Linked DNA regions of Homo sapiens: region 1 is linked to region 2. Evidence: fine-mapped expression QTL. A gene starts in region 2. The other region holds a variant in brackets. All regions are shown on one strand. Distances are between the middles of the regions. Region 1 holds the start of CFAP119 (cilia and flagella associated protein 119). Region 2 holds the start of MIR762HG (MIR762 host gene).

Evidence for each region. PIP is the estimated chance that this variant, and not a neighbour inherited with it, causes the effect.
Region 1: its variant is fine-mapped to the expression of MIR762HG in skeletal muscle (GTEx, PIP above 0.99). The same link has a PIP of 0.9 or more in breast, liver, lung and whole blood.

Annotation. Positions count from the first base shown.
Region 1 is chr16:30,757,868-30,766,190 of GRCh38, forward strand. It overlaps PHKG2 (phosphorylase kinase catalytic subunit gamma 2), which reads left to right. Exons shown (of 10, transcript NM_000294.3): 10 at 1-3,309. CFAP119 (cilia and flagella associated protein 119) reads right to left here and starts at 4,195. Exons shown (of 9, transcript NM_001014979.3): 1 at 3,678-4,195; 2 at 3,331-3,362; 3 at 2,739-2,801; 4 at 2,417-2,586; 5 at 1,787-1,857; 6 at 1,475-1,591; 7 at 1,311-1,380; 8 at 1,145-1,234. The coding sequence starts at 3,881. It overlaps RNF40 (ring finger protein 40), which reads left to right and starts at 4,455. Exons shown (of 20, transcript NM_014771.4): 1 at 4,455-4,493; 2 at 4,608-4,810; 3 at 5,251-5,418; 4 at 5,551-5,692; 5 at 6,312-6,518; 6 at 7,071-7,192; 7 at 7,314-7,460; 8 at 7,558-7,632; 9 at 8,296-8,323. The coding sequence starts at 4,679. RefSeq lists enhancers at 1,056-1,155, 2,120-3,319, 3,284-3,433, 4,024-4,203, 4,159-4,796 and 4 more and a silencer at 3,518-3,747. The variant G/A (reference allele first, on the strand shown) is at 4,124.
Region 2 is chr16:30,871,232-30,879,554 of GRCh38, forward strand. It overlaps MIR762HG (MIR762 host gene), which reads left to right and starts at 4,229. Exons shown (of 3, transcript NR_110942.1): 1 at 4,229-4,255; 2 at 4,799-4,887. It overlaps MIR4519 (microRNA 4519), which reads right to left and starts at 4,092; the gene lies at 4,035-4,092. It also overlaps a transcript of BCL7C not described here. RefSeq lists enhancers at 2,757-3,512, 3,513-4,267, 3,802-4,061, 4,268-5,022, 4,332-4,541 and 1 more and a silencer at 4,942-5,001.

The sequences.
Region 1 (8,323 bases), 110 kb before region 2:
CCTACTCAGTAGCTGTGTGACCTTAGGCAGGTTATTTAACCTATCTGTGCCTCAGTTTCCTTGTATGAAATGTGGATAGTGATACCTAGCACATAGGATTGAGGGAGGATTAAATGAGTTAATTTATGTAAAATGCTTAGAGCAGGGCATGCACTGCACACCTATTGCCAAGTATGTGCTGGCTGTTATTGTCATTGGCTTTCTCTTTTTTTTTTTTTTTTTGAGATGGAGTCTTGCTTTATCCCCCAGGCTGGAGTGCAGTGGCAGCGATCTCAGCTCACTGCAAGCTCTGCCTCCCAGGTTCATGCCATTCTCCTGCCTCAGCCTCCCAGTAGCTGGGACTACAGGCACCCGCCACCACGCCCGGCTAACTTTTTGTATTTTTAGTAGAGACGGGGTTTCACAGTGTTAGCCAGGATGGACTCGATCTCCTGACCTCGTGATCCGCCTGCCTCAGCCTCCCAAAGTGCTGGGATTACAGTTGTGAGCCACTGCACCTGGCCTGTTCTTTGTTTTTTTTTAACTCTTAAGTTCTGGGATACGAGCAGAACATGCAGGTTTGCTACGTAGGTATACATGGGCCATGGTGGTTTGCTTTACCCATCAACCCATCATATAGGTTTTAAGCCACCGTCATTGGCTTTCTAATGATCATTTCTCTGGAGCCACTTCAGCTGTGCTTTTTGTTTGTTTGTTTGTTTGTTTTGAGACAGAGTCTTGCTCTGTTGCCCAGGCTGGAGTGCAGTGGCCAGATCTTGGCTCACTGCAGTCTCCACCTCCTGGGTTCATGCAGTTCTCCTGCCTCAGCCTCCTGAGTAGCTGGGACTACAAGCGCGCACCACCATGCCTGGCTATTTTTTGTATTTTAGTAGATAGGGGGTTTCACGGTGTTGCCCAGGCTGGTCGCGAACTCCTGAGCTCAGGCAATCCGCCTGCCTCAGATTGTGCTGGGATTACAGGTGTGAGCCACCACGCCTGGCCTGCAGCTGTGCTTTTATCTGTCATCTTGGACTTCTGCATAAGGGATCATTTAGAGAAAGGACTCTGACTAAAAACAAAAAGTCTGAAGTCCTGATGTCATCCAAACCCTTCATTCTACACCTGCTCAGAGGGACAGGGCAGCCTGCCCTCTCCAGATCCTCACTTGGCTCTGGCTCTGGTGGGGCCACTGTCTCTAGTTCCTCTTTCTGCGGGGTAACTGCCTGCTCCTCCATCTCCTTGCTTTCTTCTTTCTCTGCAAACCAGAAGCAGGAAGAGACTGTGGCCCCAGGCCTGGCCCAGCCCAGCCCTGCCCTGGCACTCTCCCTTACCCGTCTCACTCTCTGGCCACAGTTTGGGTGGCTGTAGCCCCATGTAAGTCAAAGACAGATCCAGCCGCACCTGGGAAGCAAGGCAGAGGGAGGCTGAAAGGAGTGCACCTGTGCTGAGGGGAGGGGCGGTTGAGGGTGGCTCCTCATGGTCCACCACCCCCTACCTGGGGTGTGAAGACGTATTTATAGAGCTTGAAGTGGCGGAAGTAAGTGTTGACCACGTAGTCTTCCAAGGCCAGCAGCTGTTCCTCTTTGAAGAGGTCGATGCTGAAAGGAGGCCGCTGTGGTGGTGACTCGGAATTAGAACCCTGACTACCTTCCGGAGCCCTGGCTTTGCCTCCAAAAGCCCAGCAACAGGAGCAAGGAGAGCCCACTGGGGTCTTCACAAGAAGATAAGGGTGATGAATGTGAGAGAGACTGGGTGAGACCTTGTCTGGGGATGGGTAAAGTTTCCAGAATGTTCCAGGGGAACTGACCCTGACTCCATGGCAAAAAAGGACACTGGTGAAGTAGCGGTAGCACTCCTCCACGTTGCCCAAGGGGGTTGCTGGTAGGGAAAGCAAGATGCAGCAGTGAGGCCCTCTCTGGTATCCATTCATTCACTTCACTCAACAGCTGTTTATGACCATGAGCTTCAGAAGCAGACAGATCTGGGTTTCAGCACTGGCTTGTTTCCTTAACTCATGTAACAAATACTGAATACCCACTATATGCCCACTGTATGGTTTTCGGCACTGAACAAGACAGACAAGGTCCTGCCCTTACGAAGCTTATATTCTAGGGGAATAAACCAAGAAATAGATCATTTCAGCTATTAAACATTCTGAAGCAAGAGCTATTAAACATTCTAAAGCAGGTGTTATTGTGCACTATGCATATATTTGCATATATTATTTCTCAGAACAGTCCTGTAAAATGTGTGCTGTATCCTTAATTTCTAGATAAGGAAGCAGTGGATTGGAAAGCTGATGGCTTGTGTATGATGATGCTACTAATAATGACATATTCCAGGCAGAAATCCCCTGCTTCTGCTTCCCATGGTCACTTGTGCCAGGCCCGGTTCCTCTTCTCCCTGGGGCTCAAACCTGGTAGCTGCCCCCTCTCACCAATACAAGCCTTGTGAAGATCCTGGAGCAGGGCACAAGCCGCTGACGTCTGCTCCAGTGAGAAGCCCTGCTGGCGGCAGAAAATGAGCGCGTGGCAGAAGAGGTCCAGGGTGATGGCGTCCCTCAGGCTCTGCTCAGGACACCCTAGCTCCAGCAGCTCAGCCAGCACCCTTGGGAGGGAGAGAGGAGTGAGTGACAACTGGGCCTCCTTTCATCACCCTACACCCACCACATGCTTTGGAGTCAGCCATTCCTCATGTTTTCCCAACCTGACCCCTCAGCCTTTGCCAAGAGCTCTTCCCACGCCCCCCTCAGTCCCTACTCCCTCATCTCAGCATTGGTGGTCTTCTCCAGCTGGTGCATGGAATGGACGTCCAGGTACTTCCTGTTATAGTAAAAGAAAAAGAGTATTGGTGGCCGTTACCTATCATGACAAGGCTGTGACAGCTAGTGCGTGAGACTGGGAGTTGGCCACCGGCGTGAAGCTGGGCTCTTTTGCCAGCTTGCTGTGTGACTATGCAAATCGTTAACTCTCTGGGCCTAAATGAACTCTTATGAGCCTCTCCATTTCTAAAGCCTAGGGTTAGGAATCTTGAATTCTTTTTTCTGCTCTGCCACTACCTTGTATGACCTTGGTCAAGTACTCCCTGTGGCCCTCAGTGTCCCCCTCTGTACAATACTCCTTAGCGGCCATGAGACTCCATTTACATTCTGTCTTTGGCTCTTTTTTTCTCACACTGCCTCCTCTTTGGACTGGAGAGGCTGGAAAGCCAACTTCCAGTCACCTGGAGTAATTGCATCTCCAGGCCTCAGTCTCATCTGTAAAATGGGGATGCCCTGGCCACAGACAGGACTGTTGGGGAGACAATAAAGAACGCAAATATTCAGTGTAATTTTTGTCTCTTCACACTCACCACATGCAGATCCGGGGTCGGGGCAGCGGCGGCTGCGGAAAGAAAGCGAATTGGGGAAGGCAGCTGCGGTGTCCTGGCCCGTAGCGAATCTCCAGCAGGCCGGAGAAGCCGCTGTAACTTGCCATCTCATCTCAAGGACTAAGGAGAGGCGCGGGCGAGGGAGGGCTTCAGCAGGCCCTAGGTGCTCTACGCGAGCACAGTAACCACCGGGGTCACACACCCCTGCCTCTCCTCGCCCAAGCAGCCCGGGAGACGTCCCGAACGTTAGTAAGCATAATGACAGGTGGCGCCTGCGGGGGAGCCGGTTTATAAATATTCACGAGCAGACCAGACTGTCCCGCCCTCACCGGAAACAAGTTGGCTCCGGGGTCTTCATCCGCTTTCGCCGCCGCCGCCGTCGTCCACTGAGTCCGCACACTCGCACGCGTCCGCGCGGCCGACCCATGCACTGAGCTGCGATCCTTCCCCGCTTCCCGCCGCAGCTCGGAGAGATGTTCAAGCTCCGACTGCACCCTCATTCCCAAAAAGTGGCTGGTCTTGCGGTTGAGCATCTCGCCGCTCTTCCGTGCCGCGAGGCGCCCCGGGCTCCCGCCGCCTAGGTTCCAGGACAGCCAGCGCTCGGTCGGCGGCTACCAAGGCCGGGCCCGTTCGCCTCGCTCCGGCCAATCTACGCGCGGAGAGGCGCGGCGGGGCGAATCCGTGGGGGCGTCTCCCTCCGTCTCAACGGCGACGGTTGCCAAGGGGGCTTGTGAGGGAAGGAAGGCGGAAAGCGCAGGCTCACGCCAGTGGGAGC[G/A]AAGAGAACGCGCAGATACGTGAGAAGTTGCGAGTGCCCACCTGGGCGCCCTCTCTTCCAGGTTGCTAATACGAGGGCCGGTGCTGTCCTCCAGGCTGGGAAGTGGGAGCGCGGTGTCAGTTACTATGGGAACTGCCTCTTGGCCAATCACCGAGAGAAAGAGGAGGTGTTTGGGAAGAAGCCAGAGGACCCGAGTGGCGGGACCAAGCGTAACCAATAGAAGCAGAAGATAAAGAAGTTTCCTCACATCCGGGGCTGCCTTTGGCGCCTGCGCCCTGCGCACCGTTGGGGGGGGGGCAGTGGCGTCCAGTGACGCCCAGTGACGTCCGGTGAAATCCAAGATGGCGGCGCTAGGCTGACCCTCCTGCTGGTGAGGGCTCTGGCGCCGGGGGGGACGGGATCCAGCAGGTGTGTGCAGGGTGGAGGGTGTTTGGGGCTGTGGAACACCAGCCGTTCCCACATCTCTGCTCTGTGTCTTCTGCAGGTGACGGAAGTACCGCCTCCTCCCGTTTGACGCCCCTCAGGGGACCCTGCATCGCTCCAGCCGCCGCGGCCATGTCTGGGCCAGGCAACAAACGCGCCGCCGGCGACGGGGGCTCAGGGCCCCCGGAAAAGAAGCTGAGTCGTGAGGAGAAGACCACCACGACTCTTATCGAGCCCATTCGTCTTGGAGGCATCTCTTCCACGGTTCGTGGGCTCTTGCCTTAACCCTCAGAACTTCCCAGAGCCCTCCCTCTGTTCTCTGGCCAAACTGTGCGGAATCTTACACCCACTTCCCCAAGTTTAGCAAGGTCCGCGTTACAGGACCTTGAAAGAAAGGTTAGAAAGAAGCTCAGAACACGACGCCTGTCTTCCCTTTACAGATAGGAAAACAGGTTTCCAGGGGGCGTGTGACTTGTCAAAGACTAAGGATTTACAAGGGGACAGGCAGAAACAACGTGAGCCTCCTCACAACAAAGACACTTTCGCTGTGTGTTGTCTGAGCCTCCTTAGATTCTGTTAGCGGTTAGTGTGGGAATACCTCCATCTCCCATGCATTGCAGATGCTCTGCTCCTCTTTCTCTCTCTGTGATTGGTTTGTGGGCCCTGCTTGACGCTCTCGTCGGCCCCTTTGTTTCCTTTGGTAGGAGGAGATGGACCTGAAGGTACTACAGTTCAAGAACAAGAAACTGGCAGAGCGGCTGGAACAACGGCAGGCTTGTGAAGATGAACTCCGAGAACGAATTGAGAAGTTGGAGAAGCGGCAGGCCACAGATGATGCCACACTCCTCATCGTCAATCGCTACTGGGCCCAGGTGGATACCTTCTGCTTTCAAAGACCAGGCCTTGATTCAGCTGCCAATCCCCAGATTCCCCTGCTAGGAAAGGAGTATCATGTTGGAAAGCACTAAGGGATTCATAACATTTTTGATGTTTTCTCCTTCCAGCTGGATGAAACTGTGGAAGCCCTTCTCCGATGCCATGAGAGCCAGGGGGAGCTGTCTTCAGCGCCTGAGGCACCTGGGACCCAGGAGGGGCCAACATGTGATGGGACTCCTCTCCCAGAGCCGGGGACATCAGAGCTGAGAGGTAGGACCAGAGTGCTGGGATCTGGGGAGCTTAAGTTCTGGGAGAAGTCCTGGGGAGGAGGGGACTTTGGTGTTGGGCCCCTGAATTGCCTATCTTACTACTTCTCACGAAATGGATTTCATGTTTGGGCAGTAAAGTGCAGTGCACAAAAACACAGGCTTTAGACTCTGACTAACTTGGTTTATAGAGCAATTCATGTTTTGACACCCATTTGTTTCAAAACAGTATTATGGTTGAGTATTAAATATGTATTTGACGCTTCCTAGAAATGAGTGTTGCACTTGCTATAAGGGAGGAAATTATAAACATAGTAAGCAGAAAGTACTGGGGCTCCTGAAACGGAATGATTGTGTGTGCATGCATGTGCGTGTGATTCTAATTATATTGGTAAAGTACAGGAAGCTTCCCTGAGGATGTGATACGCAACTCTGTAGCTTTGAGGAAATTACTTTACCTCCCTGAATTTCATTTGTCTCACTTTCAGGATGGAGATAATAGTGCACTATAGGTTGTGTTGATTAAGTGAACCATGAGTATTGAAGGGCTCAGTCTGGAACTTGGTACAGAGTGGTAGTAACTGCTGCTCTTATCCTCATGAGGGTCTGTCCATTCCTTCCAGACCCCTTGCTGATGCAGCTGCGGCCCCCTCTCAGTGAGCCGGCCTTGGCTTTTGTGGTGGCACTGGGTGCCAGCAGCAGTGAGGAGGTGGAGCTGGAGCTGCAAGGCCGAATGGAGTTCTCCAAGGCAGCTGTGTCTCGTGTGGTAGAGGCCTCAGACCGCCTACAGCGCCGGGTGGAGGAACTCTGTCAGCGAGTGTACAGCCGAGGTGGGTTCTTTGTGCCCATACTGAAGGGGTGTCCATCCCCACCTGCATCTTGATGGCACCCCTTCCTGATTCCCCTAATGCCCGAGTCCAAGGGCGGCCAGAATTTCCCAAGGAATAAATCAGCCATGTTCTTGGAAGAGGTAGGTTAGGCTGTAGATGGGGGTTCCAACTTTGATTCCGGGATTGAATGCTAGAGAGATGGGTTGGAGGAGTTGTTGATGCCGGTAGAGGCTCCTGGCCAGAGGCCCCTCTGGAGCACTTGGTGTGGGTTGCGGATCCACAAGGCATAGCTTCAAGGGCTCAGGCCTTGTAGGTTGACAGGCTTCTCCCACCTTAGTTCTGCCACCCTCACCTGGACATGCTGGGAAAGTGGCTCCCCTCTCTGAGCTGGTTTCCTTCTCTGTGCAGTGGGGATAAAGACTCCTGGCTTTGTCATGAGAAATGGGCAAGACAGCTGGTGGATCACACTGGGTATATAGCAGACTCCAGAATGAGTTAGTTGTTTGCCCCATTGCCCTGAGCTGGGCTCTTACCTGGGCCCTGCCTTCCCAGGGGACAGTGAGCCCCTCAGTGAGGCGGCTCAGGCACACACCCGAGAGCTGGGCCGTGAGAACCGGCGACTGCAGGACTTGGCCACTCAGCTGCAGGAGAAACACCACCGCATCTCATTGGAGGTGAGGAGCCGGGGGCTTTGGGGGTGTGATTAGAATCAGGCAGGATTTGGGTTAGATGGGCACTCAGGGACCTCAGGAACCAAGTCCCCCATCCAAGCATCTGCTCCCTCATTGTTCCCAGTACTCCGAGCTCCAGGATAAAGTGACATCGGCAGAGACCAAGGTGCTGGAGATGGAGACAACAGTGGAGGACTTGCAGTGGGACATCGAGAAGCTGCGGAAGCGAGAGCAAAAGCTCAATAAGCACCTGGCAGAGGCCTTAGAGCAGGTGGGGCAGGGGTGCTGGGGCAGGTGAGGCAAGGCTGGGCCCTTGGGCCTTAGCTCCTCCCCTCTACATCCATTGCCTGTCTGTTTTCTCTCCACAGCTTAACTCTGGCTACTATGTATCTGGGAGCTCCTCAGGCTTCCAGGGGGGCCAGATCACACTCAGCATGCAGAAGGTGAGCGGCGTTTTCCTCCCACCCCTTCTCACAACCTCTTCTCTGTTGCACTCTTGAAATTCCCCTCAGGACAAAGGACAAACATCCATCTCTGAGGCCCTTCCTGGTCACTCCTGCTGCTCTTTTTTTCATGCATTCATATACTTGTTGAGTAGATTTTTGAACACTTAGTGCTAGGCACTAGGCATATTGGCGAGAACAAAATAGAGGTCAAAACTTTCATGGACCAGACAAGAAATAAATAAAAGAATATATCTTTAGGTTCTACTTGTGGTAACAGACAAGAAATCAGTAAAATAGCATATCAGTGTGTTATGAGTACCACAAAGATAAAGCACAGAAGAGAGAGCTAAGAGTGAGTTGGAGTCAGTTGGCATCTGGTGGTCACTGTGCCCTTTTTCCCTTTATTAGCACTTTAGGCCTTTCTGGAATGCCTTCCGTGACTCCCCATCAGTTAAGAGCCTTAGTTCCCAGCACCGACCATGCAGTATTGAATTTTCTCCCATTTTTCTGGGAGCCCTTAGGAAAGTACTTGGTTTGGGGTGTCAGAATCGATCATTGCCCTGCACGGGGTGCTTGGGGTGGAGTGTATGCTGGGGATGTAAGGGAGGCCTGCTGCCACGTCTGGCCCTGCCTCCCATGGCCCTGCCTCCCACTCCTTAGTTTGAGATGCTGAATGCAGAGTTAGAGG
Region 2 (8,323 bases):
GAAATGCTGCTGTAAACGATGGCTGGAGTTAGCCTCATCTGAACTCTGTGTTTGAGGGTACACACTCTGAAGTCAGATGATACGGATTCAGATCTGCCTCTATTATATACTATGGGACAAGTGACTTCACTTCTCTGTGCCTTGCTTTTCTCATCTGTCAAGTGGAAATAATAAGAGTACTTACCTCACTAAGTTATTGAAATGATTTTGTAAGATTATGCATGTAGTGCTCTGAGAATATTCACCTAGCTCAATGTTAGCTTTTTTTTTTGAGACTGAGTCTCACTCTGTCGCCCAGGCTGGAGTGCAGTGGTACGATCTTGGCTCACTGCAACCTTCACCTCCCGGGTTCCAGTGATTCTCCTGCCTCAGCCTCCTGAGTAGCTGGGACTACAGGCAGGCACCACCACACCTGGCTTATTTTTGCATTTTTAGTAGAGACAGGGTTTCACCATGTTGGCCAGGCTGGTCTTGAACTCCTGACCTCAGGTGATCTGCCTACCTTGGCCTCCCAAAGTGCTGGGATTACAGGTGTGAGCCATCGCACCCGGCCACTATTTTGTTTTATAGGGTCCAGAATTACTCAGATAATTGCTTGGATTTAGGGTTGAGATTCTCACCTAAGTTGAGTGAGACCAGATGGACCCTAATCATCCTGTCTGGAGGTGCTTAGCCTCAAGTTTGGGTCAAGTTGAATTGCACAGCTGTGAGAGAGGTGGACTGAGTTAAATCGGTGTTGAACAAGAGCATGGCAGGACCTGGTTGTTTTGCTTATCTTCTATATGCTATAATTTCAAAAATTAAGGTATAAAATTAAGCTCTCTCTGGAAAAGGATATTCGTGTTATTGGAATGGGTTCTGAATTTAATGGTCAGTTAAAGCCCACAGGGAAAGAATAAGATGAGGAATAGGGTCTGAGGGAGGAGGCAGAGTTCTGATGAAGATGATGGCAAGAGGTGGGAAAGTCCTTGGCCAGGAAGGGGAGAGAGGGAGTCATGGTGAATACCCTGCGGCTGTGCTCCAGGAAAGTGGTCAGTCCTGAGAGCAGGTGGCGGCCTGACATTCCAGAAACATGGGACCCTATATGCAGGTAATCCCAGCCAGCCTAGAGACTCTGGTGCCCACAGGTGGAATAGGGCAGAAGTCATGGAGTGTAAGGGACCCCTGTGGGCTTGGAAAGTGATGCCAGTAGCAACCAAGATGAACTAGAGATCAGACTCTCCTCACCACCAGCACGCACGTTCACACACACCCTCATTCTCCAGGCAGGCAGCACTTCCTGAACTGCGGTGTGCCGTTGAGAGAGGGTGAAAGCCCCAGTGGCAAATGAGATGGGATTTCTGTTTAGAGTCATAAATTGTTTCATAGAAATATTTGAATATTTGTTAGAAGAGGTACCCAAAACAACTCAGGCAGCCTGGTGCCCGCATGTTTTGGGTAGTGGCCAGAGTCCCCTCTCAAGCCTGCTAGTCCATTCCCCACCCCCTATCCTACTTCCAGACTTGGTAAGTAGGTAGTTTTGGCAATCAGACAGACTTGGTTAAGCCTAGCTTCTGTCACTAGCTGTGTGACACTGGACAAGTAATTGTACCTGACTTCTCTGAACCTGTTTCTTCATCGGTAAAATCATGCACTTCTTTACAGGAGTTGTCAGGAAAATGCAATGAAAGAATAAGGTGAGGGTGGTTTTCAAATGATGACCTGGAGAACCGTAAATCAGACAATCCAGTGTTTGCCAAACTTCATTCACATCCCATCTTCCCAACCTCTGACAAATTTGTGGACCACCTCTACTTCTGTTTACTTAATCTTGTTCTTTAAAAATTATCAACTCACGTTTTGATGGAACTAGGTGTATTCAAAAGGAAACTTTAACCACTGCCATAAATGAGAAATTATCATGTACCCAAGAGTGGTAAAAATAGATACAATAAAACCAAAACAATGCTGTTCAGTTCTAGCTGGCTATGATTATAGGCCAGGGCTCTGAGCTCAAGGAGTTGATTTTGTTAAAAACAACAACAAAAAGGTTATCTCAGTCAAAAAAGGCCACATAAAGCCCTAATATGAAATGTCCAAAATAATCAACTCTATAGAGACAGAAAGTAGATTTGCAGTAGTCTAGAGCTGTAGTGGGAGGAAGGCTTGGGAGTTACTGTTAATGGGTATGGTTTCTTTTAGGGGTAATGAAAATGTTCTAAAATTGACTGTGGTGATATTTGCAAAACTGTGAAGATACTAAGAATCATTGAACTGTACACTTTAAATGGGTGAGTTGTATGGTGTGTGAGTCATCTCTCTCAGTAAAGGTGTTATTTTAAAATACGTATATATGGGCCGGGTGTGATGGCTCAGACCTGTAATCCCAGCATTTGGGGAGGCTGGGGCAGGCAGATCACTTTTGAGCTCAGGAGTTCCAGACCAGCCTGGGCAACATAGCAAAACCCTGTCTCTACTAAAAATACAAAAATTACCCAGGCATGGTAGCAGCAGCCTGTAATCCCAGCTACTCGGGAGGCTGAGGCAGGAGAATCGCTTGAACCTGGGAGGCGGAGGTTGCAGTGAGCCGAGATCGAGTCCCTGCACTCCATCCTGGGCCACAGAGCTACACTGTCTCAAAAAAAAAAAAAATTGTACAGATATATATACACACACACACATATAGAAAAATTATATAATTTTTCCTCCTCTCTCTATATACATATATATATAGATATATGTATACACACACACACACACACACAGAGGAAGGTATAGGTGTCAAACCTTTTTTTTTTTTTTTGAGACAGATTCTTGCTCTGTGGCCCAGGCTAGAGTGCAGTGGTGCGATCTTGGCTCACTGCAACCTCTGCCTCCCGGGTTCAAGGGATTCTCCTGCCTCAGCCTCCCGAGTAGCTGGGATTACAGGTGTGTGGCACCACATCCGTCTAATTTTTGTATTTTTAGTAGAGACAGGGTTTCACCATGTTGGCCAGACTGGTCTTGAACTCCTGACCTCAAGTGATCTGCCCGACGTGGCCTCTTAAAGTGCTAGGATTACAGGCGTGAGCCACTGAGCCCAGCCTAAATTCAATTATTAAACTCCTTGAGTTAATTAAAGGGTAGCCAGGTGCGGTGGCTCATGCCTGTAATCCCAGCACTTTCAGAGGCCGAGGCAGGAGGATCGCTTGAGCCCAGGAGTTCCAGACCAGCCTGGACAACATAGCGAGATCCTGACTCTACAAAAAACAGAAAAATTAGCCGGGCGTGGTGGCGCGTGTTTGTAGTCCCAGACACTCCTGAGGTTGAGGTGGGAGGATCACCTGAGCCCTCGGGAGGTCGAAGCTGCAGTGAGCGGAGATCGCACCGCTGCACTCCAGCCTGGGGGACAGTGAGGCGGTCTCAAAACAAAACAAAAACAAAAGGGGAGGGCGGGGGGAAGACTTAAAGACCCCTGAGCCAGGGCCATTATTATTTAACTTGGTCGGGTCTCTGAACCATTCGGAGGAAGCTTGGGTTTCTATCCTTCCCGACTGAGCCACAGACCTGAGTCTTGACTCCGGATAAATCACCCCAGACTGTTTTTCTGTCTGTGACACGGGAACGGCAGCTTCTGCCTCGCGAGGTGGAGAGAGAATGAGAAGCGCCGTGTGTGGCGCGCCTGACACGGTCAGCTCGCGGGTGGAGGCCCGGAGCAGAACGCCCTCGGGCGCCCGCTCTTGCAGCCGCACTGGAGACCGGGAATGGCTCCGGCCACGCCTCTGCCGACTGCGGCAACGCGAGGGACAGCTGGTCTCCGGGGTTGCAGCGTAACGCCCTCCTTCCCGGCCTCATCTTTCCTGACTGCATAACGGGCATACAGTGGGTTCCATGGCGCAAGGGAGCTGAAGAAGCCGCCCGCCCCCAGCTCGCCCGGGATCCTCACGCCCCTATAACGCCCCGAGGGGCCACGATGCTGCCCACAGCCCAGATCGCGAGTGCGGACCCTGCGGGAGGGTCTGGCCTAGATGCGAGTTTCCCGCCGCAGACCAGGCGAGGCCACGCGACATATCCCCTACCCGCTTACTGCAGGCCGCAGACGGAGACAGTGCAGCCCTGCGCACTGCTGAGGTTGCCCGAGGTCTCAGCCTCGGCGGGTCGGGAACACGCGGCGCGCGCCCGCGCCCCAACCGGAAGTCCGCCACCGGCCGCTCTAGCACGCGCAGGGCTGCGTCTGTGGCCTTAACCCTTCCCAAGGCTGCGCCGCCGGCCTTTGTCTCCGCGGAGCGTCACAAAGGTTGGAAGGGTCGCGGGGCCTCTGGGTGCCGAGCTGCAGATGCCTCCACTGCGAGCACAGCCCTGAGACAAGGGCCCAGGCGCCCAGCGGGGCTGGTTTCACTCAGTCCAGCCGCACCTACCCGTGCCCTCACCAGATCTTAAGATACAGACATTAAAACCTCCACCGGGCCGCGGCACAGGACAGCAGTTTTACTTTCTGTTTTTGGCATTGCATTGCCTCCATTTCCTAGAGTGCACGTAATAAATACCGCTGGTGATTCCAAAATATAAAGGTTGAAAATATTTACTTTACAAAAATTTGGTTCCCATACTGCTTTTAAGGCCATCCTCTGCACTTGGTTCCCGCTGCTCCTGATGTGGTTGAAAGATGGATGACCCCAAAGACGAGGAAAAGATTATTGGCTCCATTTTTTAGATGCGGCAGCCAGCTAAGGTCTAGACAGGGGAAGGGACTTGCCCCAAATCACAGTTAGAGCAAATCAGTCTGAATCAGGAATAACTCCATTCCTATCCCGCATCCTGCCCTTTCACTACGCCACAGCTGCCTGGCTGCCTGGAGGAACAAAGGAGGGCCGGGCAAGAACGCCATTACCAACTGCAAATCCACAGGCAAATGCAAGAGGACAGAAAGTAAGTTCTTGGGCTCTGCCCTTGTGCCGTACCCGGAGGGGTTCTGGGGTCACCAGCCAGGTGCATCCCTGCCTTCACAGCCATGCACAGCGACACCCAGTTAACTAATGGGGGGGATTATGCCACTTGCTGGGTATGCCTGTGCCACCAGTGCACTCACTCTGTGCCTGGGGAAATAACCACGGATGAATCTGGGGATCCCCTGGGCCCACTGTGAAATGGACCTGAGCTAAAACTCCATTGATCACAGGACCTCAGGGATCTTTTGGGTCTCGAGAACAGAATTGGATGCTACAGGAGAAATGTAACCAGAAAAGGATTAGGATTTTGCCAGTAGAGAAAGGGAGATGTGCTTGCTTTCATTCATTTATCATTAATGAGCACCTACTGTATGCCAGGCACCACACTAGGCCCTAGGAAGACAGAGATTATGAGACAGATGTGGCCTTATTCTAGCAGGGGAAGTGAGATGAAGGAGGTGAGAAAGAGGAAGTATAGTGACTAACCAGGGACCTGACCTAGTTTGAAGGTCAGGGAACCTTGGAGGAGGTGAAATCAAACCCAAAGCCTGAGATAAGAGAGAGAAGGGGAGGGTGGAGGGAAGGAAAGGGCTTCACAGACAGAGGGAACGGGAGTGCTAACAGCCTGGCCAGCTTCCTTGTGGTAGAAGTTCTATGCATGAGTTGGAAGAAAGCTTGGGGAAAGGGGCAGGAGAGGTGGGCAGGGGCCAAATCCAGCAGGGGCTTTTCTACCATAAGGAACTTGGTGGGAGAACTCCATGGGCAAAAACAGGTGTGGAAGGGACCAAGAAGCCCATGTGGCTGGAGGGCAGGACATGAGATGAAGATGACTAGAGCAGGGAGTGAGGAGGTGGAGAAGGTGAGCAGAGGCCAAGGCTGGGAGGCCTGAAATGCCTGGCCGCAAAACTCAGCCATTAGCCTGGAGGCCATGCAAGTGAACAGCAAGGAGGAGAGTGGAACACCAGGGAGCGGTAGGGATTGCGGGGACTGAAGGGCAGAGACTCCGCCCCCAGGGCAGTCAGTGTTCTGCACCCCCTACCCCCCTACCCCACCAACCTCCGCCCCATGACCACTCCAGGAGGCAAACTCAGTATCTCAGAATATCTGCTTTCAAGGGTAGCTGGAGTCCAGATTTCTTTTTTTATTTTTGGTAGAGACAGGATCTTGCTCTGTCGCGCAGGTTGAAGGGTAGCAACACATAGCTCACTGTAGCCTCAACTCCTAGGCTCAAGCAGTCCTCCTGCCTCAGCCTCCCAAAGTGCTGGGGTTACAGTGTGAGGCACGTCACCCGGCCTGAGTCCAGATTTTTTTTTTTTTTTTGAGACGGAGTCTCGCTCTTTCACCAGGCCCGAGTGCAGTGGCACTATCTCGGCTCACTGCAAGCTCCGCCTCCTGGGTTCAGGCCATTCTCCTGCCTCAGCCTCCCGAGTAGCTGGGACTACAGGCACCCGCCACCGCGCCCAGCTAATTTGTTGTATTTTTAGTAGAGATGGGGTTTCACCGTGTTAGCCAGGATGGTCTCGATCTCCTGACCTCGTGATCCACCCGCCTCGGCCTCCCAAAGTGCTGGGATTACAGGCGTGAGCCACCGCGCCCAGCCTAGTCCAGATTTTTATATGAAATCACTTGATTTTAATGTTGCCAACATGTTCAACACCATGTAAGCCAAACAAATCACATTCACAGGCTCACAGCTCCAAGCTTTGCAGCATGTTAGCATCACCTGAGGAGCTTGTAAAAATCCCAGGGCCCTTGGCCGGGCGCAGTGGCTGATGCCTGTAATCTCAGCACTTTGGGAGGCCAAGGCGGGTGGATCACCTGAGGTCAGGAGTTCGAGACCAGCCTGGACAACATGGTGAAACCCCATCTCTACTAAAAATACAAAAATTAGCCGGGTGTGGTGGCAGGCACCTGTAATCCCAGCTACTTGGGAGGCTGAGGCACGAGAATGGCTTGAACCTGGGAGGCGGAGGTTGCAGTGACCCAAGATCATGCCACTGCACTGCAGCCTGGGCGATAGAGCTAAACTCAAGACTCAAAAAAACAAAACAAAACAAAAAATCCCAGGGCCCAGGTTGCACATGATACCAATGTAAAATGTCTGGGGTGGGGCCGGGTGTGGTGGCTCATGCCTGTAATCCCAGCACTTTGGGAGGCCGAGGGAGACGGATCACAAGGTCAGGAGATTGAGACCATCCTGGCTAACACGGTGAAACCCCGTCTCTACTAAAAATAAAAAAATTTAAAAAAATTAGCTGGGTGTGGTGGCACGCGCCTGTAGTCCCAGCTACTCGGGAGGCTGAGGCAGGAGAATCACTTGAACCCAGGAGGCAGAGGTTGCAATGAGCCGAGATCGTGCCACTGCACTCCAGCCTGGGCGACAGAGCGAGACTCTATTTCAAAAAAAACAAAAATGTCTGGGGTGGCTGGGCGTGGTGGCTCACGCCTGTAATCCTGGCACTCTGGGAGGCCGAGGTGGGTGGATCACGAGGTCAGGAGCTTGAGACCAGCCTGACCAACATGGTGAAACCCAGTCTCTACTAAAAATACAAAAATTAGCTGGGCGTGGTGGCACGCACCTGTAATCCCAGCTACTCAGGAGGCTGAGGCAGAAGAATCACTTGAACCCGGGAGGCAGAGGTTGCAGTGAGCTGAGATCGTGCCACTGCACTCCAGCCTGGGTGACAAAGCGAGACTCCGTCTCAAAAAAAAAAAAAAAAATGTCAAGGGTAGAAGGCAGCCATCAGAATATTTAAATGATTCCCCAGGTGATTCCAGTATGCACACTACCAGAGACTACGTGCTTTCAGTTGCCAGGCTCAGCCATGGGGAGCCATGGGAAGTTTTAGAACAGGAGAGGAGCCCAGTTTAGAGTTTAAGGAAAATCATTCTGTAGGAGGAACAGAATGTAATCTTGTGTGAAAAGGGTCCGGAAGCCCCAAGGGCAGTGGCAGGATCCTGCTAGGGTGATGGTGATCAGCCATCCCAGTTTGCTCAAGACTGGGGTGTCTCCTGGGACATGGAACCTGCAGTGCTAAAACCAAGAAAGTCCTGGGCAAACAGGGATGCTTGGTCATGCTAGATTCTCCTGATGTAGTTCTGTTTTCCCAGATTTTTGGGGAGACTGATGCCACAGACTTCGCATTCTAGAAATTCCTAAGAAAAGGCTGTCCATCTCCCTGTGGTGCATTCACCTGAGTCTCTGAGCCCTGGCAGGGCCCATCTCTTCTCCACCCAGCAGAGTGATCCTGGCCTATGGAATATAATTTAGCAGTAAAAAGGAACAAACTACTGATTCACACAATAATCCGGATGACCCTCAAGAATATTAGCCTGAGTAAAAGAAAACAGATGCAAAAGAGTTACATACTGCTTAATTCTATTTACATGAAGTTCCAGAACAGGTTCACCCAATC